Regions from separate parts of the Homo sapiens genome. Here all the other regions are linked to region 1. Evidence: fine-mapped expression QTL. A gene starts in region 1. Each other region holds a variant in brackets. All regions are shown on one strand. Distances are from middle to middle.

Evidence for each region.
Region 2: its variant is fine-mapped to the expression of GCH1 in whole blood (TOPMed, PIP above 0.99).
Region 3: its variant is fine-mapped to the expression of GCH1 in whole blood (TOPMed, PIP above 0.99).
Region 4: its variant is fine-mapped to the expression of GCH1 in left ventricle (GTEx, PIP 0.93).
Region 5: its variant is fine-mapped to the expression of GCH1 in whole blood (INTERVAL, PIP above 0.99).

What each region holds. Positions count from the first base shown.
Region 1 is chr14:54,900,043-54,906,195 of GRCh38, reverse strand. GCH1 (GTP cyclohydrolase 1) reads left to right here and starts at 3,370. Exons shown (of 6, transcript NM_000161.3): 1 at 3,370-3,875. The coding sequence starts at 3,533. RefSeq lists silencers at 3,016-3,655, 4,066-4,115, 4,126-4,185.
Region 2 is chr14:54,831,737-54,837,889 of GRCh38, reverse strand. No RefSeq gene overlaps it. Among named protein-coding and RNA genes, the nearest start is that of MIR4308, 43 kb to the left of the region's middle. The variant C/T (reference allele first, on the strand shown) is at 3,114.
Region 3 is chr14:54,957,452-54,963,604 of GRCh38, reverse strand. It overlaps WDHD1 (WD repeat and HMG-box DNA binding protein 1), which reads left to right. Exons shown (of 26, transcript NM_007086.4): 19 at 433-653; 20 at 752-867; 21 at 1,054-1,107; 22 at 5,970-6,013. Among named protein-coding and RNA genes, the nearest start is that of GCH1, 58 kb to the right of the region's middle. The variant T/G (reference allele first, on the strand shown) is at 3,097.
Region 4 is chr14:54,941,457-54,947,609 of GRCh38, reverse strand. WDHD1 (WD repeat and HMG-box DNA binding protein 1) reads left to right here. Exons shown (of 26, transcript NM_007086.4): 25 at 3,140-3,278; 26 at 5,920-6,153. The coding sequence ends at 6,120. Among named protein-coding and RNA genes, the nearest start is that of GCH1, 42 kb to the right of the region's middle. RefSeq lists an enhancer at 2,445-2,739. The variant A/G (reference allele first, on the strand shown) is at 2,584.
Region 5 is chr14:54,853,475-54,859,627 of GRCh38, reverse strand. All of the region lies in intron 3 of GCH1 (GTP cyclohydrolase 1), which reads left to right. It also overlaps the pseudogene RNU6ATAC9P. Among named protein-coding and RNA genes, the nearest start is that of MIR4308, 22 kb to the left of the region's middle. The variant C/TC (reference allele first, on the strand shown) is at 3,601.

The DNA.
Region 1 (6,153 bases):
CCTGGAGATAGCTGTAGATCCCACAAGTTGAAGGCTCAGTCCCCAACACTGGCCCCTCCTTTCCACCACTCACAAGTCTGGGCCTCTGGAACTTTTGATTGACTGGCTTCAAGTTGGGGTTTCCACAACCCCCTCTTTGGGTTCAATTAATTTGCTAGAGTGACTCAAAGAACTCAGGGAAACACTTACGTTTACCAGTTTATTATGAAGGATATTACAAAAGATACAGATGAAAAGATGCATAGGGTGAGGTATGGGGTAAGAGGTATGGAGTTTCCATGCCCTCCCTGGGCACACCACCCTCCAGGAACCTCCACATATTCAGCTGTCCAAAACCTCCCTGAGCCCTGCCGTCTGGGCCTTTTATGTTCGTTGTATAGGCATGATTGAAGCATGGACAGCCGTGTCAAGGTGTGATTGACCTCTCTGTGCAGCCATGCTTCCTCCAGGGTATGAGGCAGGACCCTGTTTGCAATGAGGGTTTATGATCCGTAATCAGAAAGGCGGGAGATGATTAGAGTCCTGCCTTTAGTGAGTGGAAGGGGAGCAGAAGGTGAGAGAGAGAGAGAGAGAGAGAGAGAGAGAGATTGATTCTATTTTCTGAGGCCTAAAGTGCCCCAACATTGTAACAAAAGACTGTGAGTTATGAACCAGGTACTATGGCTGAAAACCTACATATACATGTATCATCATATCACACTTGGCAAACAACTCTTTGTACATTTCTGTAGCACTGCAGTGTTCAGTCTCTGACTTGGTGTGTCTTTCTCATCTGCCTCTTTGTTCTGCTGCTGTCCTAGAAATTAGAGACTTTAAAAAATTCCTTGGCTTTTTGGTAGAAAGAAACTCCCAGACTGGGTCCAAGCTGAAAATGAATCCCTTACTGGGTGAAAAACATGGATGCGGTAACAATTCCTGGCTGTAAATGCTCATAATATTACTGTTGAACCATTTTATGCTAATAAATTATCTGGGACCTACTTCCCTTTTGGTTTATTCCTCTTTTTTTCTCCTGTTGCTACTTATAACCATCCTTGTCAACTATCTACATTTTACTATTAAATTATTCATATAATGTTGGTGATTTCAAAGTTTTCTTGTATTATTTTTGGGCATTTGGCCGAAAGGCACTGCCTCCATTTTACAAGTTAGCATGTATCCAGAGGCCCTGTCCTGCAACAAAGGTGCAGGTGCCTCAGTGGCAATACGTGTAAGAAAATGTTAATTTTTAGGGTAAAAATTTCATTAGAAACTGTCTTTGTGGAATACAATATTAGTTAATCTTTACACATGTTTTTAAAGGAAGACGAAAGATTGCCACTAAAAATAAATTCGTACTGAAAGCATCTCTATCTACTCTCTCCATTTTTAAAGTACCTCACTTAGTATCTTTGTTTTCATTTGTTAAATGCAAGGTCATCCTTTGAATGTTGTCTTCAACTATGCTTGAAATAGCTTGAGACCCAGCAGATAATTCTGACCAGGAGGTATCAGCAGACAGTGGGCAGCACAGTTAGAGGAAAAAAATGTTGCAGGGCCCCACTCCCAATAAAAACCTACAATAAAAAATTTAAAAATTTTAATAAAGAGGAAAATGACAAAGAGGTTTTCCAAAGGATGTTCATATTCTCTATTTAAAAACCCCACTGGGCCGGGTACGGTGGCTCAGGCCTATAATCCTGAGCCCTGGAGTTCGAGACCAGCTTTGGCAACATGGTGAAACCTTATCTCTACCAAAAATACAAAAATTAGCCAGTCTCATAACCCGCTCTTAAATAAATAGATTAAAATTTAAAAATAAATAAATAAATAAATAAATAAATAAATAAATAACCCCACTGATATGAACATTTCTTCCATTTTGGAGTAAAGGTGCCTACAAGGCTAGGCAATGTCCATATTTCTTTCCTGAATGTTTCCAACGGGGCTGCGCCTAGAGCAGATGTATCATAAATACTAATTACTTATTATAATGACCAAGCTACATTGTTAGCATAGAATAATTCCACAGGCTTCCCTATTGGTTTGTTTGATCCTAAGCCTATTAATACCTGCTTCTATGTCAGAAAATCTACATTAGGCCAGGCATGGTGGCTCACACCTGTAATCCCAGCACTTTGGGAGGCCGAGGCAGGTGGATCACCTGAGGTCAGGAGTTCGAGACCAGCCTGGCCAACATGGCAAAACCCCACCTCTCCTAAAAATACAAAAATTTAGCCGGGCATGGTGGCAGGTGCCTGTAATCCCAGCTACTCAGGAGGCTGAGGCAGGAGAATCGTTTGAACCCAGGAGGCGGAGGATGAAGTGAGCCTCAAAAAAAAAAAAAGAAAAAAAATATTATTTTGATACATGTTTTAAAGCTCACCTTCGGCATTATGAGATAATCCCTCAAGTGAGGAAAAAGGTCCATTTATTAATCTCAAAGAAAACAGTTACAGCAGATGTCACTGGTTAAGAGTTCAGTTGGTGAATAGCATTTCACAATTTGTACCAACATCTGGGGAAAGACGCTTTGCATGGAACTGTAAAACAATTGAGCACCAAATCTGCACAACTGCGTTTCTAGAAAATGCGATGGGTTTTATAGAGATGAGGTCTTGCTATGTTTTCCAGGCTGGTCTCGAACTCTTGGCCTCAAGCGATCCTCCCGCCTCGGTCTCCCCAAGCGCCGGGAGTACAGGCGTGAGCCACCGACGGAAATGGATTTTAAGTGAAAGTCCTATCTTCGTTTGCAAATCAATTTTTCCAGGATCAAAGTTCTAGCAACCATAAATCCTATCCTTCTAGACATAGGGACCCACATAAGGGCCACTTGATGTGACACTTGCCCCGACAGCGGTGCCACCTGGCCCCTAGGTGGCAGGTGCGTTTTTAACTAAACCCAAGAGTCTGAAGTCACATTATTCTCTTGCCTTGAAAGCTTAAGAGTTGGTTCCTAATCGGTGGCTTAACTCGGTCTCTCTCCAGGCAAGGCCACCTGTTTGCTGATCTTTCACAGGGCGAGGGGACCGGAGCCCTTCAATGCAGCGCCCTCTTGGCCTGAAGAGGGGGCGACTGGGCGCCCAGACCGCGTCTTTCTCACTGAGATCCCAGCTCCTGGACGACTGCCTCTTTTCGGGTTCGGCTCATTCCGCAATAAGTGGAGGGGTCCCGCCTGATCCTAGGGGCCGGCGCCCTTTTCCTTCCCTCCCTGCGCTTGCGAACCCCTCCGGGCGTCTCCGGAGCCGCGACCCCTGCTGGGGACCCCGGGGGCGGGAGGCCGAGGGGCGCGGCGAGGGCCGTGACGCGAGGCGGGGCCGGCCAATGGGAGCGCTCCGCGGCGCAGGCTGAGCCGCCGGGCCATAAAAAGGAGGCGCGGCCGGGCTTTCCAGCCTGTGGCCGCTCCCGGCTCGGAGTGTGATCTAAGCAGGTTGCGTACCTTCCTCAGGTGACTCCGGCCACAGCCCATTGTCCGCGGCCACCGGCGGAGTTTAGCCGCAGACCTCGAAGCGCCCCGGGGTCCTTCCCGAACGGCAGCGGCTGCGGCGGGTCCATGGAGAAGGGCCCTGTGCGGGCACCGGCGGAGAAGCCGCGGGGCGCCAGGTGCAGCAATGGGTTCCCCGAGCGGGATCCGCCGCGGCCCGGGCCCAGCAGGCCGGCGGAGAAGCCCCCGCGGCCCGAGGCCAAGAGCGCGCAGCCCGCGGACGGCTGGAAGGGCGAGCGGCCCCGCAGCGAGGAGGATAACGAGCTGAACCTCCCTAACCTGGCAGCCGCCTACTCGTCCATCCTGAGCTCGCTGGGCGAGAACCCCCAGCGGCAAGGGCTGCTCAAGACGCCCTGGAGGGCGGCCTCGGCCATGCAGTTCTTCACCAAGGGCTACCAGGAGACCATCTCAGGTCAGTGCGCCCGCGGGCTGCTAGAGCGTGCGGGCGGCGGGGGCGGTGCTTGCAGGAAACGCGCGCCGGCTCCAGGAAGTTTCCGGAGTTGCCTCACTTTTGGCGCAGGAAGCCGGGCGCTGTCACCTCCGAACCCGCCCTAGCCTGCCGCCCTGCCGAGGCCCTGCGTGGGGCACAGTCGGGGCTTCCTGGGTGGCAGCGACCTCTCAGCCCCGGAACTCGCTGCAGCCGCCTTCCAGGGGCCCTTCCCGCTCCCAGCGCGCAGCCCTCCTAGAACGCCCCGGGTGGGCGTGGACGGGAGCCCGGAGCCCTCTCGCCTGAGCGCCCAGCGCGGGATTCTCGGGGTACCTGCGGTTCCAAACTTGCCCACGATAAGGATCACCTGGGCACTTGCTGCGGCGACGGCTTCCTGGGTAGTTCCTTATTGAGATCCCATTGTCAGGGTGTGTATCTGGATTGAAGCCTCGGCGCGATCCTTCCCCGAAACCTCGGGGACCTGCATTCCCACTGATTTGCCAGGGGATCGGAGTCTTAGAGTTGTGCTTTTTTTTTTGTCCACCTCAAGTTTACTCCAGTTCAGGACATTTACAAAATTCGGCACAATTTTGGGCACGGGCTTCCCCGGAGTTTGAGGTGTGAGGTTGATTGGGTGAGTTTGCTGCTGAAATCTGTTTCCTCCCCCCACCCCCAACCCCGCAAAAAGCAGTAAAGCTACTCCGGGATTCGGAGGGCTCCGTGGGTTCCAGGACTCAGTCTCATCCCCGCACCCTCCCACCCTAAAATAAAGCCGGGTTGACCCGGTGCTGTTAGCGTCTGAGGCGTGTCGGCTTTTCACCCAGAGGGTGGGGATGCAATCAGTGTGGGTAGGATGCAAGATGGGGTGATGGAGAGTGGAAAATGGGGACTTTGCTGCCTGTTGGCCAGAGAAGCAGTATTGGTCTGTGTTTAAAAAAATAAAGCTTCTGGCTTCTACAGCTGGGACCAAAGACATTATTTTCCAGTCTACACCTTCCGTGTGTCTTGGTGACATTTATTTATTTGCCCTAAGAAGCATTCTACCGTTCACTGTTTTTTGAAAGAAAAACAGTGCGCTGGAAAGGCAATCTCCCTGCCCCAGTTATTTCTCTGAAGGAGTGTAGAGCGATTCCACCAAATAGACCCTGGGAAAAAGAAAGTTATTTTTTGCCCAGTCTTCCACACCCCAAAGGAAGGGTGGGAAATCAGAATGTGAAAGAGACGGGGCCCCAAAAGGAAATGATGCTACACTCTAAAACCGGCAGTGACTTCTAGTTCTGTTTCCAAATTCACTTTTTTTTACCCCTCAATTGCAAAAGTTTGGAATCTCAGAAGAGATTTCAAAATACAAAGACTGAAAAATAAACTTTCAGTTTTCTGTGGGATCAGCTCTTTGGAGGTCTAGGGCTTTAAATTTGTGTGTGTGTGTGTGTGTGTGTGTGTGTGTGTGTGTGTGTGTGAGATATTTCACAATGTAATGAAATGTCTTCTTAAGGCCTTACTCATTTTGCCCCTTGCAGACACAGAAAGTGGTTTACTTCACAGCATCGGCCAGGCTTTGGGAATCCTCCCTTAAAGAGAATTCATAGGACAGTGTTCTGTAATCTAGCATGGATCTAATTACCCAAAGAGAGAGGAATTTCTGACCCTGAGACAGGTCACAGAATTATCTAAAGTGACTCACAGATTTACTTGAGAAATGGTTAGCTGAAATATCTCATGAGCGAAGATTCATTTAAAGAGGATTAATAACTGCAAAGAACACATCATTCCACATTAGAAAACTGTTCTGGTTGGCCGAGCTCGGTGCTCACGCCTGTAATCCCAGCACTTTGGGAGGCCGAGGTGGGCGGATCACCTGAGGTCAGGAGTTCAAGACCAGCCCGGTCAACATGGCGAAACCCCGTCTCTACTAAAGATACAAAAAAATTAGCCGGGTGTGATGGCGGGCGCCTGTAGTCCCAGCTACTCGGGAGGCTGAGGCAGGAGAATCACTTGAACCCAGGAGGAGGAGGTTGCAGTGAGCCGAGATTGCACCACTGCACTCCAGCCTGGACGACAGAGGGAGACTCTGTCTCCAGAAAAAACAAAAAAAACAAAAAAACTGTTCTGGTCAAGTTTTACTATTTAAAAAGTCCATGGGCCGGGCGCGGTGGCTCACACCTGTAATCCCAGCACTTTGGGAGGCCGAGGCGGGCGGATCACCTGAGGTCAGGAGTTCGAGACCAGCCTGGCCAACATGGGAAAACCCATTCTCTACCAA
Region 2 (6,153 bases), 68 kb after region 1:
TTTTCCAGGTGCCCTCTGTCACTCTGTGCCCCCACATATTTGAAGATGTATACTATCACCTTTGCCCTTTGAACTCAAAGGTGCTGCTGGGAGTGATTATAGGAGTGTGAGATGGTCACCTTGTAGTTCCATGTAATCACACTGTCTTAAATGCTCAAATTAAAAAAAATAAATAAAAACTGGTAATTCTGTGGTTAGCACAAAATTCAAACATCACAAAATAATTAAGGAAACATTTACCTTCACCTCTGCTCCCAAGTAAGCCAGGCAGCTGCTATCATCAGAGATATTTAATGAAATTCTTTACTTTCATGGCAGAATGAAAATCTTTGTCTCCTGCATGTAGGCTGACTTTATGTACTTCCTAATGGTAGAAGGTGTAACTCTAAACTGGTGAGGAGTTTGTGTAACTATCAGAATGTAAAATCCATTATGTTTATTCTGGTGTTCTTTCAAAGTCATTAGATGCTTTCTCTGAATTTTTTTTTTTTTTAGCAAAATCATCTGCAAAAGAAAAATGTGTCCTCCTTACAGAACTTTGACCACCTTAGCAAAAGAAAAGCAGATTCTGGCAAACTGAGTGTTTCAAGCAGGGGCTCTTTTAAAATTTGTTTTTTTCTTTCACTTTTCACGTTATTTGAATAGGTAATATATGCACTTGCATATAATGTGAAAAGCACAAAAGGATATGCCTTGAAAAGTCTCTCTCCCTTTCCATCCCCAGCTGCCCAGTTCTTTTCCCCAAAGCCACCACTTTACCACTTTTTTGTTTGTTTGTTTTGAGACACAGTTTTTGCTCTTGTTGCTCAGGCTGGAGTGCAATGGCGTGATCTTGGCTCACCACAACCTCTGCCTCCCAGGTTCAAGCGGTTCTCCCGCCTCAGCCTCCCAAGTAGCTGGGATTACAGGCATGCGCCACCACACCCGGCTAACTTTGTATTTTCAGTAGAGACTGGGTTTTACCATGTTGGCCAGGCTGGTCTCGAACTTCCAACCTCAGGTGATCCGCCTGCCTCGGCCTCCCAAAGTGCTGGGATTACAGGCGTGAGCCACTGCGCCTGGCCCACTTTACCACTTTCTTACATATACTTCCCCAAATATTTAAGGCATATTTACACACACACACACACACACACACACACACACACGCACACACGTTTATTTAAATGAGGGACTATTGGCCATGTGTGCCTATCCAAATCACCTAGGGAACTTTTAGACAATGTTTCTGTACCCTGTGAGGAACTATTCAGTATTTGTAATTATAGTTTGAAAAAGAAAATTGCCCTTGGTTATTCTGGTGGGCTCCCTCAGTTAAGAATGACTAGCCTAAGATACAAAAATTCAGACCCACAGAACCCAACAGGAAGCCAGTAGCTCCTTCCCAGGCAATTTGGGCAGGAGAACAGCTGTGTGGATCACTCTGTGAACAATCGTTTCTATCGTCCCTGGTTAAGGGCATCTGCAACCACTCAGCTGATAAGTCTAAAGGTAAATTGTCCCTTAAAAGGGACTGTCTCCAGATTAATATAATCACTGCTGCAATTGCCTGTGTATAAATAACTTATTTCTCTGGTCTGATACCTCTAAACATATCCTACTTTTTTCCTCCTCCATCTCATTTTTTTATACTTGTTAATCATAGAAAACTTAGAAAATGGGCAGGCACAGTGGGTTACACTTGCAATCCCAGCACTTTGGGAGGCTGAGGTGGGCAGATCACCTGAGGTCAGATCACGTGAGGTCAGGAGTCACCAGCCTGGCCAACATGGTGAAACCCCATCTCTATTAAAAATACAAAAATTATCTGGGCGTGGTGGCAGGCACCTGTAGTCCCACCTACTCAGGAGGCCGAGGCAGGAGAATCGCTTGAACCCGGGAGGTGGAGTTTGCAGTGAGCCAAAATTGTGCCACTGAACTCTAGCCTGGGCTACAGAGAAAGACTCTATCTCGAAAAAAAAAAGGAAAAAACCTTAGAAAACAGTGAAGTATAAATAAAAAGACCAGTTACCCAATTGCATAGTTCAGAAAATAACTGCTGTTGACATTTGTTTTATTTTACTTGCTTTTAAAATTGTGCAAATAATATCTGGATGCTTCTGGAATATTTAAAGCAAATCCATCCAGACAGTCTATCATTTCATCGGTATTTATTTCACTATGTATCACTAATGGATAAGGGGTAAGGACTTAAATAAAATCCCCGCACATTATCACATCCCCCCCAAAGTTACAACCATTACTTGATATCATATCATATTCTGCATTTACCTTTTCCCAGATTGCCTTACATTTCTTCCTAGAGTTCACTTTGATGTGTTTTCTTCCATTTGTCCCTCCTTATTCTGTGTAACTATGTGTAATACTTTGGATACTCTAAAGTCCTCACAGTCATTCCCTCCCTTATCTTGTATCTTTGTTTAAATGGCTACATGATGTTCCATGGTATAAATGTCACATGTATTGATTATTTTCATAATGATGGGCTGTCATGTTGTTTCCAGTTTTTTCTTATTATAAATAACACTGCAGTGGACATCTCTATTTCCAAAGGATAGGCTTTTAGGTATAGATTTATTGGGACAAAAAAGTCACCCGTCTTTCTGTCTTCCCCTCCCTAAGTAACAAAGGACAGACTCAGGTGGGCTATTTACAACCCCCACCCTGGCCCTGTGCTGTGCAACTGTCCTCATATTGTAACTGTCTTACACCTAAAATTTTGTAGCACACAAATTAATTTTTTCTCTCACCCAGGGGTAACTTTGCACCTCACTTATCTTGGCAGATTCACAGTTTTACACGGAAACTTTTATTGAGATAACTGTATGAAGAAATACTACAGTTAGAAGAAATACTACACAGAGTTCACTTCTGTACTTTGCTGGGTTTTTCCCAGTGCGAACATTTAGCCAAACGATGGTGCAATATCACAGCCAGGATATTGACATTGATATAATACACCAATCTCATTCTGATTTGTCCAGTTTTGCTTGTACTCACTTGCATGTGTGATTAATTTCTTTGCAACGTACAGGTCTATGTATCCCCCACCATAGTCAAGATGCTGACAGTTCCAATACCACAGGATCTATCGCGTTGCCTTACTATAACCA[C/T]ACCACTCACCCTCAGCCCCTTCACATTTTAAAAAGACTCTTTTTTTTTTTTGAGATGGAGTCTCCCTCTGTCACCCAGGCTGGAGTGCAGTGGCGCGATCTCAGCTTACTGCAACCTCCACCTCCCAAGGCCAAGCAATTTTTGTGCCTCAGCCTCCCGGAGTAGCTGGGATTACATGCATGCACCACCACAGCTGGCTAATTTTTGTATTTTTAGTAGAGATGGGGTTTCACCATGTTGGCCAGGCTGGTCTCAAACTCCTGGCCTCAAGTGATCTGCCTGCCTCCGGCCTCCCAAAGTGCTGGGATTACAAGCATGAGCCACTGCACCCAGCCAAAAAGACTCTCAATACATATTCCAAATTTCTGTCTAGCAAGATATAACTAATTCATACTACCCTGCCAGCATTGAGTATCATTTAAAAAATATATTACTAGGTGGCCAATGTTTTCACTGTCTAGCTTTCTGTTAAAGTCTTTTAATACATGTATTGTCAAATTTGGCCTCAAAGTGTATTGCAAATATTCTCCTAGAAGAAATGAGGCAGATGTTTCTTTCATTTCTCTGCTTGTCCAATACTTCAAAACATTGTTTTCAGTGAAAATCAAATCATGAACCCTGCCAAATGCAAGAAGCATGCAGCCTTCTATCTTTAACAAAGCTGGTACTAACTTTCAGGAACACTACTTGTGGGGTTGAGACAATTGTATTTTGCTTAATAGGGTTTTCTGGCTAAGAGCAGACTGGAAGGTTTTGCTAAAGTTATTTCTAAAAGGGATTTTATCTAAGTCAAAGGATACTTACCTTTTCTAAGTACAGTTCAATGAAAAATAATTTTATTTTCTTTAGGTAGAGGTGATCTCTGAGAGAAGGAGCCCTCTCAATATCTCTCTCTGAGAAATGAGTATATTCCTTCTGCTTGGCAGTGGTCCGGGTAACCCACGACACCCTGGCATTTAGGCTGGCTCCCTTTGTGGGGTCAGAATTCTTCCTGGTCTAAAGTGAAGTCACTGTGGACCTGCTTTTCATTATAAGCCATCATTTTTGCTAAAGGTAGAGCATTACTAAAGTTGGAGTTGAGGCGATTATAAACAGCAGTATGGAGGATGAACCTGGAATACAGCGGATAGAAACAGTGTGGGGGTAGAGTGGTAGACGACAGGTAGAATTAGAAGGCTCTGTCCTCAGGCAAACATAGCATGGGAGGTACTTCAGTCAGAAATACAGTTTATAATAAATCAATTCTCATTTAGCCTGGAAAAGTTAACACACATGATACATGGAGGACGCAATTGAATTTTAGCCATGTAGTTGTGCACATTTTAGATCTAGAAGTCACAGAGAGTATAAACACAGAAGATCAGATTATAAAAGACCCTGTATATATATATTTGCTATTTAAAACAACAATAAATGCCTATATCATTTGCCCCAGTAATTCTTTGGGGAATTTATCCTCTAGATGTATTTATATATATATGTGTGTGTGTGAAGGTGACATTTGTATACAAGATTATTCATTGCAGCATTGTTTGTCATAAGAAAGCTCTTGTTTATTAGCTCTAAACCCAAAGTATGCAAAATGATCACATGAAGTTTTGGTTGCAATTTTTAGGGTCCTGGAAGTCCTAGCTAGAGCAATCAAGCAAGAGAAAGAAAAGACAGGCAAGTAGGAAAAGAAGAAGTCAATTTATCTCTTCACTGACAATATTACTCTATACCTAGAAAACCATAAAGACTCCACTAAAAGGCTCCTGGAACTGATAAACGACTTCAGTAAAGTTTCAGGATACAAAATCAGTGAAAACAAATTGGTAGCATTTCTGTACACCAATAATGTTCAAGCTGAGAGCCAAATCAAGAATGCAATTGTATTTACAACAGCCACAAAAAATAAAATACCTAGGAATACATCTAACTAAGGAGATGAAAGACCTCTATAAGGAGAGCTGCAAAACACTGATGAAACAAATCATAGATGACACAAACAAGTGGAAAAACATCCCATGCCCATGGTTCAGAAGAATCAATATTGTTAAAATGGCCATACTGCCCAAAGCAATCTATGGAGTCAACACTATTCTTATCAAGCTACCAATGCCATTTTTCACAGAACTAGAAAAAACTATGCCAAAATTTCTATGGAACCAAAAAAGAGTCCAAATAGCCAAAGCAATCCTAAGCAAAAAGAACAAGACCAGAGGCATTACTTGACTTCAAACTATGTTATAAGATTACAGTAGCTAAAACTGTATGGTATGGTACAAAAACAGACACATAGCCAGGCACGGTGGCTCCTGCCTGTAATCCCAGCACTTTGGGAGGTTGAGGTGGGGAGATCACATGATTCCAGCCTGGGCAACATGGTGAAACCCGTCACTATGAAAAATACAAAAAAGTAGCTGGCTGTGGTGGTGCACGCCTGTGATCCCAGCTACTCAGGAGGCTGAGGTGGGAGAATCACCTGAGACTGTGAAGTCAAGCCTGCAGTGAGCTGTGATCACACCACTGCACTCCAGCCTAGGCAATGGGAGTGAGACCCTCTCTCAAAAAAACAAAATGAAACAAACAAACAAACAAAAAACAAGCACATAGACCAATGAAACCGAATAGAGAACCCGGAAATAAAGCTGCACACCTACAGCCATCTGATCTTTAACAAAGTCAACCAAAATAAGCAACGAGGAACAGAATCTCTGTACAATAAATTGTGCTGGGATAGCTGTATAGCCATAAATAGAATGAAACTCGACCCCTATCTTTTACCACATATAAAAATTAGCTCCACTGGTCGGGCGCCGTGGCTCACGCCTGTAATCCCAGCACTTTGGGAGGCTGAGGCGGGCAGATAACCTGAGGTCGGGAGTTCGAGACCAGCCTGACCAACAGGGAGAAACCCCGTCTCTACTGAAAATACAAAATTAGCTGGGCGTGGTGGTGTATGCCTGTAATCCCAGCTACTTGGGAGTCTGAGGCAGGAGAATTGCTTGAACCTGGGAGGCAGACGTTGCAGTGAGCAGAGATCACGCCATTGCACTC
Region 3 (6,153 bases), 57 kb before region 1:
TCTCGAACTCCTCACCTCATGATCCACCCATCTGGGCCTCCCAAAGCACTGGTATTACAGGCGTGAGCCACCGTGCCCAGCCTCCCCCTTGAATTTTTTAAACAAATTTCTTAATTTTCTTGCAATTAGTAGATTAAAGTGGTATGTAATATTTCATCAAATCTAAGCCACTGTTTATTGCATAGTGCACCATTACTTTATTCATTTAAGCCATGGAGACATAAAAATGCTGCCAAACTGACCCACCATTAATTGTAATTAATTGTAATTCCAATTTCAGAGATGTTAAAACTTGTAAAAATGTGCATCTTAGAATTAGGGAGATAGAGTAGCTAGAAAACTATTGTCTCAGTTTTACTAGTAGTGTCAGTATCTTTAAAAAGTTTTACTTGATGTTATTTGATCTCCCCCCCCCCCCCCTTTTTGGATTAGCTTTCTTGTAAACTGGAGCGAGAATTCCGTTGTGTGGAACTTGCTGATCTAATGACTCAAAATGCTGTGAATTTAGCCATTAAATATGCTTCTCGCTCTCGGAAATTAATACTGGCTCAAAAACTAAGTGAACTGGCTGTAGAGAAGGCAGCCGAATTGACAGCAACCCAGGTGGAAGAGGAAGAAGAAGAAGAAGATTTCAGAAAAAAGCTGAATGCTGGGTAAGAAATAATTTAGTTGTTTGAATTTTCCTTTACTGTCTTGAATGTTAAGTTGGTCTTTGCATAGCTCTTTATTGAATAATATTATTTTCTCTTAGTTACAGCAATACTGCTACAGAGTGGAGCCAACCAAGGTTCAGAAATCAAGTTGAAGAAGATGCTGAGGACAGTGGAGAAGCTGATGATGAAGAAAAACCAGAAATACATAAGCCTGGTGAGATACATTTTCAAGCCCATAAATCATGAGAACTATCATGGATGTGGCTTTTCCCATTTTGCTTAACTGAGGGAAATTGAATACTCATACTTTTTTTCAGACCTCTTTGCTATCTGGTTGTTGTATATTGAGGATGACTATATTTTCCCCATTTACATTATATTGCTTTATTTTAATCTGTAGGACAGAACTCGTTTTCCAAAAGTACAAATTCCTCTGATGTTTCAGCTAAGTCAGGTGAGAAATATTTATAAATTTGTAATATCAAGGAAATTTTGCAAGTCATCTGCAAAGTGACACATCTACGCAAATACACCTTAACTCTTAAGGCCACTTTTGGTGTGTGTGTGTTTATGTTTTTGTTTTTTTAATCTCAGATGTTGTTTGTGAAGCTATGGTCATTTAACAGATGTTTATAAAATGCCTATTGAGTGTCAGGCATTTTACTTAATGGTGGATACAGAAGTCAAACAGACATGTGTGGTTGATCTCTGTTTTAATGCTATTTTAGCCCAGCTGAGAAGACAGATGTTGAAGACAGATCTGGGTATCACTGAGGAAGCATGCAGGATACTGGAGAAACAGTTAAAAGGAATTGAAGGCTGGGCGCAGTGGCTCACGCCTGTAATCCCAGCACTTTGGGAGGCCGGAGTGGGCGGATAACGAGGTCAGGAGTTCTAGACTAGCCTGGCCAACACGGTGAAACCCCATCTCTACTAAAAATACAAAAATTAGCTGAGGGTGGTGGTATGTGCCTGTAATCCCAGCTACTCGGGAGGCTGAAGCAGGAGAATCACTTGAACTCAGGAGGTGGAGGTAGCAGTGAGCCGAGATCGTGCCATTGCACTCCAGCCTGGGCAATGGAGTGAGACTCCATCTCAAAAAAAAAAAAAAGGAGTTGAAAATGGTTGCGTACAGGGAGTGGGCCTGGGGGATAAGAGAAGGTTGAAGTAAGGCACTGCTGGCCCTTTTTTGGTGGGGAGCATAAACCTTATAGTACCATTTGACTTTTTAAACTGTGGACATATGTTACTTTGATTTAAAAAAATTAACTTAAAAAACATGTAGAATATGAAAAGAGCGTATGACACATAGCTGTCATCTAGCCAGTGGTGGAGGATGGGTAGGGACTTCAAGGCAGGCCTCATGGAGTGTTTACAGCAGAGACCTGAAGGATGAATAACAGTCAGCAAGGCAAAGGTGCATGGGAACAGGAGCAGAAGAGAAGCATTTGGGCTTAAGGAACAGTATGTGTGAACTGAAGGCTGCAAAAGGGTGGTGTGAAAAGCTCAGAGAGCAAAGAGAAAGTGGTGCTGAAGGGTTTCGGAGTGATGGGCAGGAGCCAAGTCATGCAGATCTGTGTAGGCCATATTAAGGATTTTGGTCTTTTTTTTATTTTATTTTATTTTTTTTAATAGAGATGGGGTGTCACTCTGTTGTCCAGGCTGGTCTCAAACTCAAGCAATTTCCTCACCTCCACATCCCAAAGTTGTTGGACCTGCAGGTGTGAGCCACCACACCCGGTCAGGATTTTGCTCTTTATTCTAAGGTCACTGAGAGACTGTTGTAGGTTTTAAGCAGAGGTATAGCATGGCACACTGTGCTGAAGAAGAACAGATAATAGACTACTGGCCAGGTGTGATGGCTCATGTCTGTAACCTCAGCATTTTGAGAGGCCAAGGTGGAAGGATCACTTGAGACCAGACGTTTGAGACCAGCCTTGGAAACAATGAAACCCTATCTCTACAAAAAGTAAATAATAAAAATATTAGCCAGGCATGGTAGTACACACCGGTAGTCCCAGGTATTTGGGAGGCTGGGACAGGAGGATATCTTGAGCCCAGGAGTTCGAGGGTGCAGTAGGCTATGGTTGCACCACTGCACTCCAGCCTGGGTGACAGAGCAAGACCCTGTATCAAAAAATAAATAGGCCAGGCGTGGTGGCTCACGCCTGTAATTCCAGCACTTTGGGAGGCCGAGGCAGGTGGAGCACTTGAGGTCAGGAGTTCAAGACCAGCCTGGCCAAAATGGTGAAACCACATCTCCACTAAAAATACAAAAAAAAAAATTAGCCGGGCATGGTGGCTCATGCCTGTAATCCCAGCTACTCGGGAGGCTGAGGCAGGAGAATTGCTTGAATCCAGGAGTGGGGAGTTGCAGTAAGTGGAGATCACGCCACTGCACTCCAGCCTAGGTGACAGAGTGAGACTTCATCTAAAATAATAA[T/G]AAGAAGAAGTAAATAAAAATTAAAAAATAAAGAGACTACAAGCTGGGCGTGGTGGCTCACACCTGTAATCCCAGCACTTTGGGAGGCTGAGGAGGGTGGATCACGAGGTCAGGAGATTGAGAGCATCCTGAAGAACACAGTGAAACCCCGTCTCTACTAAAAATACATAAAAATTAGCCGGGCATGGTGACAGGCACCTGTAATCCCAGCTACTTGGGAGGCTGAGGCAGGAGAATGGCGTGAACCCGGGAGGCAGAGCTTGCAGTGAGGTGAGATCATACCACCGCACTCCAGCCTGGGCGACAGAGCGAGACTCCATCTCAAATAAATAAATAAACAAACAAACTACAGAGGCAGTCCAAATGAGATTGAATAAGGGCCTGAGCTAGGGTGGTGATGGTGATGTTAGAAAGAATGGGCAGAGTTGGAGAGCTATTTCTGAAGATGATGAAGAGAGTGTAGGAGTTCAGGGCGTAAAGAGTGATTCTCAGTTTCTTGTAATAGAAGAAAAACTTAAGCACATTTGAATCTTGAAGGATTAATTTGAACATTCAGTGATTCATGAATCAGGGAGGCACCAAACCGCAAGGGGCTAGCACTCTGCCAGGAGAGACAAAAGGGGAAACTTTTATAAAGTATTTTCAGAAACGAGATAAATAAAACAATTTTTATTGGCTAGATGGAAAGGTTTTTTTGTTTGTTTTTTTTGTTTGGTGGGGGGGGTGCGGATACAGGGTATCTTGCTTTGTCACTCAGACTGGAGCAGAGTTGGAGTGCAGTGATGCAGTCCTAGCTCGCTACAGCCTTGAACTCGTATGCTCAGGTGATCCTCCTGCCTCACCCTACTGAGTAGCTATGACTACAGTTGTGCATCACCATGCCTGGTTAATTTTTTGTGTGTACTTTTTGTAGAGAGAGGAGCTTGCTTTGTTGCCGAAGCTGGTCTGGAACTCCTGGGCTTAAGTGACCCTCCTGCCTTAGCCTCCCAAAATTTTCGGATTACAGGCACAAGTGGCCATGCTCAGCTAGAAATTTCCTGCCTGCCTGCCTGCCTGCCTGCCTGCCTCCCTCCCTCCCTTCCTTCTTCCCTCCCTCCCTCCCTCCTCTTCCCCCCGCCAGGGTGTGACTGTCATCCAGGTTAGAGTGCAGTGGCGTGATTATGGCTCACTGCAGCCTCAACCCCCCAGACCCAAGCGATCTTTCCACCTCAGCCTCCCAAGTAACTAGGACCACAGGCATGTGTCACCATGTCTGGCTAGTTTTGTTTTGGTTTGGGTTTTTTGTTTTGTTGTTTTTTGTTTTTGTAGAGACAGGGTCTCCCTATGTTACCCATGCTAGTCTTAAACTGGGCTCAAGCAGTCCTCCCTCCTCAGCCTCCCAAAGTGCTGGGATTACAGGCTTAAGCCACCATGCCAGGAAAGCTCTTAATTAGAGATTAGTTTGTTAACACTGGCTTGAGTACTTGAGTGAATGATGGTGCCATTTCCTAAGTCAGGAAACACTAGAGAAAAGCAGATTTAGAGAGGAAGATGATGAATTACTGTAAGGTGAGTAGAATGTCGTGAAGACAGATATTTGAATCAGGAGCTCAGGGAAGTATTCTGGTCAAGAGATACAAAGTGAAAATCATTGGCATAAGTATAGCAATTTAAACCATGAGCATGGGTAAGCAAGCATTGGGGGAGAATGTAAAGCAAAAAGAAAAATGAGCTTAAGCCTAGGGAATCTCCAACATTTGAGCATCAGGTAGAGGAAGAGGAGGAACCAACTATTGGAACACAATGAGTCCACAGGTCCAGAGAGGAAGGAACTAAGTCAGGGAATGCAGTATCTCAGAAGTCAAGAGAGGACAAAGTATCAAGAAGTAAGGAACAGTCAGCTATGTGGGATGCCATTGATAGAGCAAACAAGGTGACTGAAAGGTATCCACCAGATTTGACAATGTAGAGATCACTGAGGGCCTTAGCAAGAGGAGATTCTGTAGGGTGGTAGAGCTGGAAGTGCTATATTGTATGGAGGAATGTATGGGTGGTGAGGAAATGATAATAGTGTCAACAGTTCTTGGAAAAATTTGGCTGGATGACCGGGCGTGGTGGCTCATGCTTGTAATCCCAGCACTGTGGGAGGCCAAGGCAGACGGATCACCTGAGGTCAGGAGTTCAAGACCAGCCTGGCCAACATGGTGAAACCCTGTCTCTATTAAAAATACAAAAATTAGCCGGGCGTGGTAGCAGGCGCCTGTAATCCCAGCAATTCGGGAGGCTGAGACAGTAGAATCGCCTGAACCTGGGAGGTGGACTTTGCAGTGAGCCGAGATCACACCATTGCCCTCCAGCTTGGGCAACAAGAGCGAGACTCTGTCTCAAAAAAAAAAAAAAATGGCTGGATGGAGGAGGCGAGAGAAAATGGTGACTGGAAGGAATGTGGGGTAGAGAAGGTTTGTTTTTTGTTTCTTTTTAAGTTGGGAGACTTTAGGGGCCAATAAATAGGGAAAAGTCAAAGATGTAGGATGTCAAGAAACTTGATAGGTCAGGTTTTCTGACAAAGCAGGAGGGCATGGGATGCAGAACACAAGTAAAGGGATTACTAACCTTAGCTCAGACGAGCTGCCACTCTTCCGCAGTAACAGAAGATAAAAGATCTGTACATACTGAATATGTTTCATAGTGGCACGTTGGGGTGGTTCACATTTAATAGCTTTTATTTTGGCTTAGAAGTAGGAAAGAGGATATCTGTTGTTAATAGTTTTGAAAAGTTGCAAAATACATTTGTTTTCATTTAATGGGGATTAAAATACTCTGTCTAGTATTATAGATGTCAGAAGTCATCTATTTTCTACCATTATTAAGCAAGGGTTTCTTTTTTGTGAAAGGTGCAGTTACCTTTAGCAGCCAAGGACGAGTAAATCCCTTTAAGGTAAACTCTTCCAAGTGATGTTTTATATTATTTAAATACATTTGTATACAAAGAAATATTTCCAAATGATGAGATGACTCTCCCCAGACTTGGAGGCATGAAAGACTGATCTGTGTGGAAACAGAAGAAAGCAGCACTTG
Region 4 (6,153 bases), 41 kb before region 1:
AGAAAAAACAAAAAGAAAAGAACAGTCACAATTTCATTTTTACCATAATATATCTCATTTTTCTCATGCTGAACAGTCCAGGGAGAAAAATAATAATAAAGTATATCTTATTTTCTTAATGACTTTATGTTAACCAGTTTGAGGGAGTGGCTGTGGTTTTCACATTTCCTGTTTTGTTCTGAATTTAATTTAGGTCTTAAACAGTGAAAATTTTATTTAAGAAAATTGATAGGCCGGGCATAGTGGCTCATGGTTTTTTTTCCGCTTAACACTTTTTTCTTTTTGCTCTTGTTGCCCAGACTGCAATGCAATGGCACAATCTCGGCTCACTGCAACCTCTGCCTCTGGGTTCAAGTGATTCTCCTGTCTCAGCCTCCTGAGTAGCTGTGATTACAGGCATGCGCAACCATGCCCGACTAATTTTGTATTTTTAGTAGAGATGAGGTTTCTCCATGTTGGTCAGGCTGGTCTTGAACTCCTGACCTCAGGTGATCCACCCGCCTTGGCCTCCCAAAGTGCAGGGATTACAGGTGTGAGCCACCATGCCTGGCCCGCCTAACACTTTTTTTGAGACAGTCTTGCCCTGTCACCAAGGCTGGAGTCCACTGGTGCAATCTCAGCTCACTGCAACCTCCACCTTCTGGGTTCAAGCAATTCTCATGCCTCAGCCTCCTGAGTAGCTGGGATTACAGGTGTGTGCCACCATGCCCACTAATTTTGTTATTTTTTGGTAGAGATGGAGTTTGCCACGTTGGCCAGGCTGGTCTCAAACTCTTGGCCTCAAGCGATTTGCCCATCTCGGCTTCCCAAAGTGCTGGGGTTACAGGTGTGAGCCACCACACCTGGCCAAGCCTAACACTTTGGAAGGCCAACATGATCAGTTAGCTTCAGCCCAGGAGATTGGAACCAGCCTGGGCAATGTAGGGAGACCCCATCTCTACCAAAAGTTTTAAAATCAGCCAGGTGTGTGTGGTGGCACATGCCTGTAGTCCCAACTGCTTGAGAGTCTGAGGCAGGAGGATTGCTTGAGCCCAGGAATTTGAGGTGGCAGTGAGCTGATTATACCACTGCACTCCAGCCTGGGCGACAAAGCAAGACCCTTTCTCTTAAAACAACAACAAAGAAGATTGATAATTTAATTTTTCATACTATCAGTTGGTTATACAAAAAACTTACTTTTGAAATTTTAAGGAATTACCACTATTGAAACTAATATTTTGTCACAGATGTTGATATACTTAATCAGAAATGTCCAGTTTTAGCCAGGTGGCTGTGCACTCTTGTAGTCCTAGCCACTCAGAAGGTTGAGTCAGAAGGGTTGCTTAAGCCCAGAAGTTTGAGGCCAGCCTAGGCAACATAGTGAGACTCACGTCTCTTTAAAAAACAAAGAAAGAAATGTTCAATTTTGGTTTTCTTTTTAAAAATAGCTGTTTAGAAGTAGATGATTGCAGGCCACTAAGTAGACTTGTGACATTGCCCCAAGTTTCATTAAAATGGGTCTTCATTAATTTTTGGAAATTCAGGAACCTTTGTTATACCTTGATTTTTACTTGTTTTGATTTGTTCTGTTATTTTTCTGGAAATCGGTTTACGTTAAGATTACTTAAAATTTGCATATTTTCAGAAATTGGGCAAATGGTTATGGTCATACTAGTAATTTTTTAATAAAAATTTTTTTAACCTTAAAAAGTTTAGACTTTTTATTTAGGATTCATTTAGGTTCAGCCTAGTGAGGGGCGTATAGCTGCTGGGTTAAACATAAGAGACTCTGGGCCAGGCACAGTGGCTCACGCCTGTAATCCCAGCACTTTGGGAGGCCGAGGCGAGTGGATCATGAGGTCAGGAGTTCGAGACCCACCTGGCCAATATGGTGAAACCCTGTCTTTACTAAAAATACAAAAATTAGCTGGGTGTGGTGGCGCGTACCTGTAGTCCCAGCTGTTTGGGAGGCTGAGGCAGGAGAATCACTTGAACCTGGAAGGTGGAGGTTGCAGTAAGCCAATACAGAGCCACTGTACTCCAGCATAGGGGAAAGAGCTAGACTCCATCTCTACAAAAAAACATAGACTTTGGAGTCAAATTGCCTGGTTGTTGGATCCCAGGTCTGAGTTTTACTGTTTGTGTAACCTGGGATAGGTTATTTCACATCTCTGAGCCTCCCTTTTCTCACTTATGGAATGGAGATAATAACTGTATCCATCTCATAGTGTTATTGTCATTTAAATGAGGTACTATACATAAAGCTTTTAGAGTAGTGCCTGGTAGATAGTAAGTGATCAGTAAATGTTAAATATTTGCATTAAACCTTCACTTGTGTGACTTAAAGACAATTTGTATTGTGAGTGGAATCTAATGAAATGTACAAATGTGCTGTGTCCGTGCTTCACCTAATGCTGATGCAGGTCAGCTCTGAGAGCAAGGGTGAGGCGATGGCAAAGGGGCTTGAGAAAAGTCGTGAGGAATTCAAATAGCTGGTTTGGGGAAATAGAAAAAGAGCCTACCAAGGACATGTGGTAGGCCACAAGGGCTAAGTGAGGTTGGAGACCTTGAGCCTGTCAACATTCATTAAAAAGTTGAAAGTAC[A/G]GAGTTCATGGTTGCTGCACTTGGAAAATACAAACGTGAGTGATCCTTTTGAATTGACCTTACAAAGGATTTTCCAGTTCATTGATCCTGCAGTCTCCAGGCAGTTTAAAGTAATATGAGGCCAGGCACGGTGGCTTATGCCTGTAATCCCAGCAGTTTGGGAAGCCGAGGCGGGCAGATCACGTGAGGTCAGGAGTTTGAGACCAGCCTGACCAACATGGTGAAACCCCATGCAAAAAATTAGCCAGGTGTGGTGGCGCATGCCTGTAATCCCAGCTACTTGGGAGGCTGAGGCAGGAGAATCGCTTGAACCCAGGAGGCGGAGGTTGCAGTGAGCTGAGATCGCGCCATTGCACTCCAGGCTGGGTGACAGAGTGAGACTCTGTCTCAAAAAAAAAAAAAAAAAAAAAGTAACATGAATTAACAAGTGTAACTGTGTCTTCCTTACTTTATATAATAGATGTCAGAGACTTATGGTTGATTACTAACTTAAAATCATGAGGCACTTTAAACTCTGTCTTAAGTATAAAATGTTTTCACATAATTGTGATTTTAGGCCAAAGACCGGGTTCCAGATGTGGTTAGAAGAAAATAGAAGTAATATTTTGTCTGACAATCCTGACTTTTCAGATGAAGCAGACATAATAAAAGAAGGAATGATTCGATTTAGAGTATTGTCAACTGAAGAAAGAAAGGTAAGGATAATTGTGCCGAGATTGAGATCTTAGTGAATTCCCAGATTTAAAAAATTCTTATAGAAATGCCTTTTGGCTGGGTATGGTGTCTTATGCCTGTAATCCTAGCACATTGGGAGGTCGAGGCGGATCACTTGAGCTCAGGAGTTCGTGACCAGCCTGGGCAACATAGTGAGACATCGTCTCTAATAATAATAATAACAACAACAAAGATAATAACGATCATGACAACTAAAAAAAAAAGGAAAAGCCTTTTTCTGTTTTTGGAAATTGAATACATCCACCAAACTTTTTAAAGAGGAAAGTAAGTGCGGATATATGGTAATATGGATATGTAGTAATTATTATGTAATGGTGATGGGTTTTTTGTTTTGTTTTTGTTTGAGGCAGGTCTTGTTCTTTCACCCAGGCAGGAGTGTCGTGGTGTGATCATGGCTCACTGCCACCTCGACCTCCTGGGCACAAGCAATTGTCCTCTTTTTTTTTTTTATAGAGACAACCTCTCACTGTGTTGCCCAGGCTGGATGGTTAATTTTTTGACGGTTTACTGTTTTAATCTCTATAAGTTCCTGTATGTTTTAAGTTAGGAGAATACCCCAAGAAAAGATGCATTTGTTAAAAATCAAAAGTGTCAAGCTGAGTTCGTTGGCTCAAGCCTGTAATCCTAGCACTTTGGGAGGCCAAGGCAGGAGGATCTCTTGAGCCCAGGAGTTTGAGACCAGCCTAGACAACATAGTGATACACCATCTCTACAAAAATTTAAAAATTAGCCTGGCATGGTGGCACACACCTGTAGTCCCAGTTACTCAGGAGGTTGAGGTGGGAAGATCACTTACTTGAGCCCAGGAGGTCAAGGCTGCAGTGAGCCGTGATTGTGTCACTGTACTCCAGCATGGGTGACAGAGTGAGACCGGGTCTCTAGGGGGAAAAAAATTAATAAGTAAAAATGAATTCACATTTTTTGAATACTACTTTAGGGTTCTTGCAAGCAGAATTTTTAAAAATTGTATCTACTTACACATTAAATACTACATGAGACTATTCCTTTTGGGAAAAAGACTGGTGTTCTGTTCCAGCCTTTCACATGGAAATTAGGACAGGTGGCTGGCTTGCTTCTGATAAACTTCTGCCATGTGAAGGAAGGAAGGCACAATCTCTCAGTTAGAAGTGGAAGGAATGTGTGTGGTGTACCAGTTAAATCCTCAGGTTTCACTTCCCCAGGAATGGCAGGGCGCAGCACAGGCACCTAGTAACGTAGATACTTGCTTTGGTAAATTGGGTTTTATGAAAAAGGTGTTGCATAATGAGGAAGCCAGAAACTGGTTTAAACACCTTTAGCGTCATTTAGAACCTCATTTACAATTTTATGTTTCTCATTTGTTGTTCAATAAAATGGCGTCTAAATAAATAAGACTTTACACTGCAAAAGAGGAAGAGACTTGGCAAAGTCTGTGATTGTGTTTTTGAATACTTAAAAATGTAATCAGTATTTTTAAGGTAAACCCTAAACATTTACTTAAATCCAGTTTGTTAATGTGAGAAATTCTACAGCTTGAAGAGCCCTTGAAATGGCCAGGGAAATAAAGTAGGAGTGGGGAACTATTATAGATTAAAAGAGATTTTAGAGACAGATGAAATGAATGGACCTTGTCTGGCTCTTGCTGAGTGAATAAAAACCAAACCCCAAAGAATATATACTCATTTATATAACATTCCTGAAATGACAACATGATCAAGATGGAGAATAGAGTAGTGGTTGCCAGGGGTTGGAGTCGGAGTTGGGGCTTGGGGAAGAGGTTCTGTATTTTGACTGTGGTGGTAAACAAACCAACCCACAATAAAAGTAAATACATACATACGCTCAAATGAGTAGAAGTAAAATGGGATTGTTTCAATGTCAGTTCCCTATAGTTGTGATTGTTGGGCTATAGTTTTGCAAAATGTTACCACTGGGGAAAACTGGGTGAAGGCTACACAGGATCTTTCTGTATTATTTCATACAACTGCATGTGAAACTGCAATTATCTTAGAATAAAAAGTTTCATTTTTATTATTTATTTATTTATTTATTTATTTATTTTTTGAGACGGAGTCTTGCTCTCGCCCAGGCTGGAGTGCAGTGGCGTGATCTCAGCTCACTGCAGGCTCCACCTCCCGGGTTCACTCTAGTCTCCTGCCTCAGCCTCCCAAGTAGCTGGGACTACAGGCGCCCGCTACCATGCCCGGCTAATTTTTTTGTATTTTTAGTAGAGACGGGGTTTCACTGTGTTAGCCAGGATGGTCTCAGTCTCCTGACCCCGTGATCCACCCACCTCGGCCTCCCAAAGTGCTGGGATTACAGACATGAGCCACCGTGCCTGGCCAAAAGTTTCATTTTTAAATAGTACTGCAATTATAGTATTTTGCAACTAATATGATTAATATAAGCAAAGCTTAGATTGAGATATAAAAGTAGTGTAAATCTTTAATGTGCTCTGCATTTAAGTAATAAAAGATTTGTTAACAATGAGAACACTTAATTCAAGTGCTAATTATTCTGCTTTATATATAAAAATATTACCTGGAAAAGTAAATAAATCATTTACTTCTTATTTGTTATTTTCTAAAAATCTTTCCTTTTCACTCCTGCCATTTTACAAAGGTGTGGGCTAACAAAGCCAAAGGAGAAACGGCAAGTGAAGGAACTGAAGCAAAGAAGCGAAAACGTGTGGTTGATGAAAGTGATGAAACAGAAAACCAGGAAGAAAAAGCAAAAGAGAACCTGAATTTGTCTAAAAAGCAGAAACCTTTAGATTTTTCTACAAATCAGAAACTATCAGCTTTTGCATTTAAGCAGGAGTAAAGGAAGAAAGTGACCCTAGGGAAGTAATGGATT
Region 5 (6,153 bases), 47 kb after region 1:
TCTGCTGAGAATCTATCTCATCAGGCTTTCTCTCTTTACCTGTATGGATCTAACTTGGAAGTCATATTGCAACTTAAAGACTTGGAGGGTCTGAAACACAGATGCCCCTTCCTTCTCGTCCCCTACTGCCTGCTTCCTCTTCCACTTCCCACCCTTTCTTCCATAGATACATACATCCTGGAAGTCTCAGCCCACCTCTTTCTCTGCAGAGCCTTCTCTGACTGGAGAGGTCCTGAGCTTACCTTCAGTCCAGCCCCATCCTTTAAGGGGGGTTTAGCTAACAGTGAGGGGTTGGGGAAGAAGCTGGGCAGGGGTCTAGCTGCAGTGCTCTGCTGTCGAACTTGTTGTCAGGCCTGAGGACTCTTCTATCCTTGTCAAGGGGAGTGCTCACCTTCTTTGCTTTCATACAACACTGCTTTCAGACTTGTAATGAAACTTCCCTGTGGGATCCCCAGCCTCAACCCTGCCTTGCTCTGCACTGGATGCCTCCAGGCATATCTCAGGGGTCCTGCAGGCCAGTCCGTTCATGTCTAGGTTCTTTGTTTCTGCAAACACAAGACTGCCTGCCTTGGCTTTGCACAGCTTTATTCTGATACAGTGTTCACGCTCCTCGCTCTCATTTCTCTTTCCTGCTACAATCTTCTTTTCTGTTGTTTATCCTGTGGGTTCATGCCTTAAAAAATTCCCTTACTGCCTTTTTTATTTGGGTTTTAGGAGAGGTGATGTACATACACGTTCATCTGTGTTTAACTGGAAGTCAACATGGGGGTTTGTGTTCAGATATCTCTGGTAGGCCCCAGCCACCAATATTTTATTGCCCTTAAATATCCTTGTTGTTTCTTCGTATAAAGTTAGTGAATTTTGAGTGATGGAGGAAATACTGGGAGGTGTGTGTGTGTGTGGAGAGAGAGAGAAAGTTAAGAACAAGATGAAGGGGTCGGGTAAAGTGTTCCTACTCTTTTTTTTTTTCAAAAATAATCAAGCTAAGTTTGAATAACTTGAGGTTATAGTGACCATATCATAATTGAAATAAATGAGTCTCGGCCGGGTGCCGTCTTTCACACTTGTAATCCCAGCACTTTGGGAGGCTGAGGCGGGCGGATCACTTGAGGTCAGGAGTTTGAGACCAGCCTCACCAACATGGTGAAACCCCATCTCTACTAAAAATACAAAGATTAGCTGGGCGTGGTGGCGCACACCTGTAATCCCAGCTAATCAGGAGGCTGAGGCAGGAGAATTACTTGAACCCGGGAGGCAGAGCTTGCAGTGAGCCGAGATTGTGCCATTGCACTCCAGCCTGGGCGATGGAGTAAGACCCTATCTCAAAAAAATAAAAATAAAAGAAGAGGAATAAATGAGTCTCTGTGACCAGTTGACTGTGCTGTGGCTCTGATGTGTTCCTGTTTCTTTATGCAGGCCCTGGGATTTAACACAGTTGTGAAATGGTGGTCCTGATATTTCTCAATTCTGTGTTGGAATCTGTAAAAAAAAAACTACTCCAGCAATCTGACAACTGCCCTCTAAAGTTGTTCCTGTTACTTTGTTTTCACTTCCACTTTCTCATTCATTTCCTCTGGGGATCAATAAGAAAGTGGGTAGAAGAGACAAATTTAACTTCCCCAGTTTCTGACCTCATTCCTGCTCAGCTATTTTGCTATTAGATAGGGCTGCTTGGCACCATGAAAGAATATTATATCATAGCTGTAATTGCTTCACTGGAATAAGGCTCTTAGCACAAATCCAGAAACATTCTGGCTGCTTGCGTGTGATCCATCCCTGGTGGCAGTGCTGAAAAGTTGCTGAGAAAAAGTGTGTTGGTAGTGATTGGGAGTAATTAATCTTACTATAATTTTTATTAACGACTCCCTTCCCAGTAACTTACCCTCAACTAATGATGTATTAAACCAATTTCATGTCAACTGTGAGTAAAAGTATCTTTACTAAAATTGGTTATTCTTATGGTTTTATAATATACAGTCTAAGTAAAATCAGCATGCTTACTGTGCAAACATAGCTGTAGGCCCAGTCCCCTGGGCCTCCCTGTCAGCAAGATTGCTAACCCTATACCTTGCCCATATAGAAATTCCAGCACTGCTGATGCCTATAACAGACTGTCCATATGTGAAAGGTGTAATGGATAGTTTCATAGTGTAAAAAAGCTTGGCAGATCACATTAGGCCTTGGTCTTAATGTAACAGCCTTCTCTGAAAAACCAACTGTTGATCATGATTAACACTTTATGGGAAATGGACTCTTGAGTGATTCAGTGAGATCATACAATAAATGGCAACCTGGTGGTAGAAGGAAATAATCTTAGTTATTTCCTTTCCAAGTGAAAGGAAAAGATCTCAAATAATTAAGCTTTTATGAAACAATACAAAGGAGTTGATTATTAGCATGGGGATTTGTCCTTAGACTAATAGGATTAAAATTTAAGAATAAAATGGAACATGAAGCCAAAGAACCAAGTGTATGTTGCTTTCAAATATTTTGCAAAAAATTTGAATAAAGAGTCTATTAAATAGAAAAGAAGACTAAGATTTTATCCAACTACTTATTCCTTATAAGAAGTAAGAATATTTAGAGAATGAAGAGGAATAAAAGCTGAATGTCTTAGCAAAACTTCACTGCTCATTTTAATCTTATATATGAAGTTTGTTATATGCTTGCCTTTAAATGAATGACCTTTCAGTGCCAGTGAAGTCAAATATCAAGCAGTAAAGCCTTAAGTAACAAGAAAATGCCAGAAGTGAGTTGATCTGGCTCAACTCTAGTAGAATTCTAGAATAAACTTAGTTTGAATAGAACTTTCTTTTGTTGCTGAAAAGCCATTGAACATGTATTCATTTTCTTCCCTTAGAAATAACTGAGCCTCGGCTGGGTGAGGTGGCTCATGCCTGTAATCTCAGCACTTTGGGAGGCCGAGGTGGGCAGATCACTTGAGGTCAGGAGTTCCAGACCAGCCTGGCCAACATGGTGAAACCCCATCTCTACTAAAAATACCAAAATTAGCAGGGCATGGTAGCATGCGCCTGTAATCCCAGCTACTTCGGAGGCTGAGATGGAAGAATCGCTTGAACCTGGGAGGCGGAGGTTGCAGTGAGCCGAGATTTCACCACTGCACTCCAGTCTCGTGACAGAGCAAGACTCTGTGTCACTAAAAATAAATAAATAAATAAATAATTGAGTGAATGTACGAAATCTTGAATTTAGAGTTGTAGTATCTCAGGTAGCCATGGCTGACCTGTTGGGTGGGCACTGTGCCAGCTACTGTGGAGGCTAAAGAAGCAGGACATGGCAGCCACCCTCAAGGAGAGTGCACAGGGCAAGACTGCAAGTGCCATGGAAATGCCTGCTGTAGCTCCAAGTTCAGAGGAGCCATGATGGCTGTGGCCTGGCAGGTGAATAGACCTGGAGGTGGAGGGATGAGCAGAATTCTAAATGGGGGAGAAGTTTCTCTAGGTATAGTTAATGCATGAGCAAAGACCAGTCAGAGGGTAGGAGCAAGGCCTATTCCAGTGGATGGGAACCAGATTGACTGATGGAAGTAAGAGTAAGTGAGGTGAGTATTAGATTACAGAGGGAGCAGTATTTTTTTTT[C/TC]TTTTTTGACTATAAAAGCAACATACCATTTAAATACAAATGAGTGAATAAAGTGAAAACTTTTCTTACCTATTTTCATTCCCCAGAGTTAGAACTAGAGATTTCTTTCACTATCCTTCTGGAAAATATTTATGCAAGCACAAACATAAGATCATATCTTATATTCTGTACTACAACTTGCTTTTTAAAATTTTATTTTATTTGGTGTTTTTTTGAGATGGAGTCTTGCTTTGTCGGCCAGGCTGGAGTGCAGTGGTGCGATTTTGGCTCACTGCAACCTCTGCCTCCTGGGTTCAAGTGATTCTCCTGCCTCAGCCTCCCCAGTAGCTGGGATTACTGATGTGCACCACCATGCCTGGCTAATTTTTGTATTTTCAGTAAAGACAGGGTTTCTCCATGTTGGCCAAGCTGGCCTCGAACTCCTGGCCTCAAGTGATCAGCCTGCCTTGGCCTCCCAAATGCTGGGATTACAGGCATGAGTCACTGCACCCGGCCAGCTTTTTTTTTTTTTTTTTTTTTTTTGAGACAGGGTCTTTCTCTGTCGCCCAGGCTGGAGTGCAGTGGCACTATCTGGGCTCACTGCAGCCTCCACCTCCTGGGTTCAAGCGATTCTCCTGCCTCAGCCTCCTGAGTAGCTGGGATTACAGGCGTGTACCACCACGCATAGCTAATTTTTGTATTTTTAGTAGAGATGGGGTTTCAACATGTTGGCAAGACTGGTCTTGAACTCCTAACCTCAGGTGATCTGCTCACCCCAGCCTCCCAAAGTGCTGGGATTACGGGAGTGAGCCACCGCGCCTGGCCCTGGCCAGCTTTTTAAAAATTTAAAATACCTTGAAGTTCTTTGGACATCTTTTAGTCCAAAAAGTCCAAGTTTCTTTTCATAGCTACCTAATATTTCTTTGATTAATACAATTCATTTAACCAGTATTTGCTATAGATAAGTACAGTTTGCAGTTTGAGACTTGCCAAAAAGTAAAAAAGTACCCTGGTGAACAAATTTTATTATCTTTGTGTGCTTTGAATCTATCTGAAGTTTAAATTACTAGTATGGAACTTGATGGGTAAAGGGTAGCCGAATTTTTGATATTATGAAATTGCTCTCCAAAGAGACCATGCCAGTTTATACTCTAATAAATAGATACATAGGTAAGGGGTGGTGTATGTTTCTCCACACTTCGGCCAACACACTTTTCATCACACTTTTAAATCTTTGCCAAACTGATAAGTAAAAAATAGTATCTATTTTAATTTGCATTTCCTTAATAGAGCGAGGTTGAATCTATTCAGACACTTCCTGTTCTTAGCTCCAGTATTAATTTTTCCACTGAGTTATTTGTCTTTTTATTCTTGGTTTGCACAAGCTCTGAATGTTAAAGCAGTCAGGTCAGGTGCTACAGACAATGCTTCCCAGCTCGTCATTTGTCTTTTGATTTTGCTTTATAGTATTATATTTCCATAAAGAAGTTTAAAACTTTTCTGTAGTTCACAAACTTCTTTTTTTTTTGGTACTTGTATGGCCACATTATTATATTTAAATCTTTGCTCCATCTGGAGTGTATTTTGGGGTGAGGAGTGAGGCAGAACCCATCCACTGCTGCGTGTGCTCACTGCCCGGCAGGTGCAGCACCCCCACTTCCTGCCTTCCTGCCCTCCCTGCTGCAGGTCTTTGCTGGGCCTTTCTTATCTTCCTCCTGGAGGGAATGTTAAGCTCCTGCCTCCTCCCTGCCTCTCATCTCTGAGGATCCTTCAGTTTGCCCTCATGAGCTGCTGGGATGTTCTTTCTAAAGTGTGGATTGGATCATGCTGCTCCTTTGGTGGCTCACCACAGCTTTTCAGTTAAAGTCCAAACTCCTTATTTAGAATAATTTAGAAAAAGCCAAAGAACAGAAATCACAAATCTACAAGTTGAAAATCTTGTATCATAGGTTGCTGGGGAGTCTGATATCTAGGAATGAGACGATATGTAACTAAAAATATGCTTTATAAATCTTTACATCTTGATGAATACGTTTTTTAAAAAGATGGGGAGAGAAAGGAATGGACCAAGAGTTTGAAAGCCTGCATACATTAATAACCATTAGAAAAGGTCAAATTAATGATTTGGGGGAAAGTGCCTGGACCCAGTCAGTTTTATAAGTGTTCTTTCAAGCTTTCAAGTAACCACAAATTTTGCATGTGTATAAATAATTCAAGAGCGTAGAGAAACCTGTGAAGTGTCAATTAATTTGATGAAGCTGCCTATTCTTGATAACAAAGCCTGATAAGCCTAGCATTAAAAAAAAAAAATGATAGGCAAATCTCACTGATTAATGTAGTTGTAAGAATCTTAAAATGTCAGGCTAGTATAGAAGTACTGTTTTCAACATGACCCAGGGATGTTTAGTCCAAGAATGTAAGAATGGTTTAGATTAAAACTGACAACTACTGATGCTGGGTGTGGTGAACTAGATTAATAATGCCCCTCTTGGCACAGCGTATCAAGATATAATGCATATGTACATTTTACACTTTCGGGAAAGCATGAGGCAATTCTAGTGAGAATCCACTGGA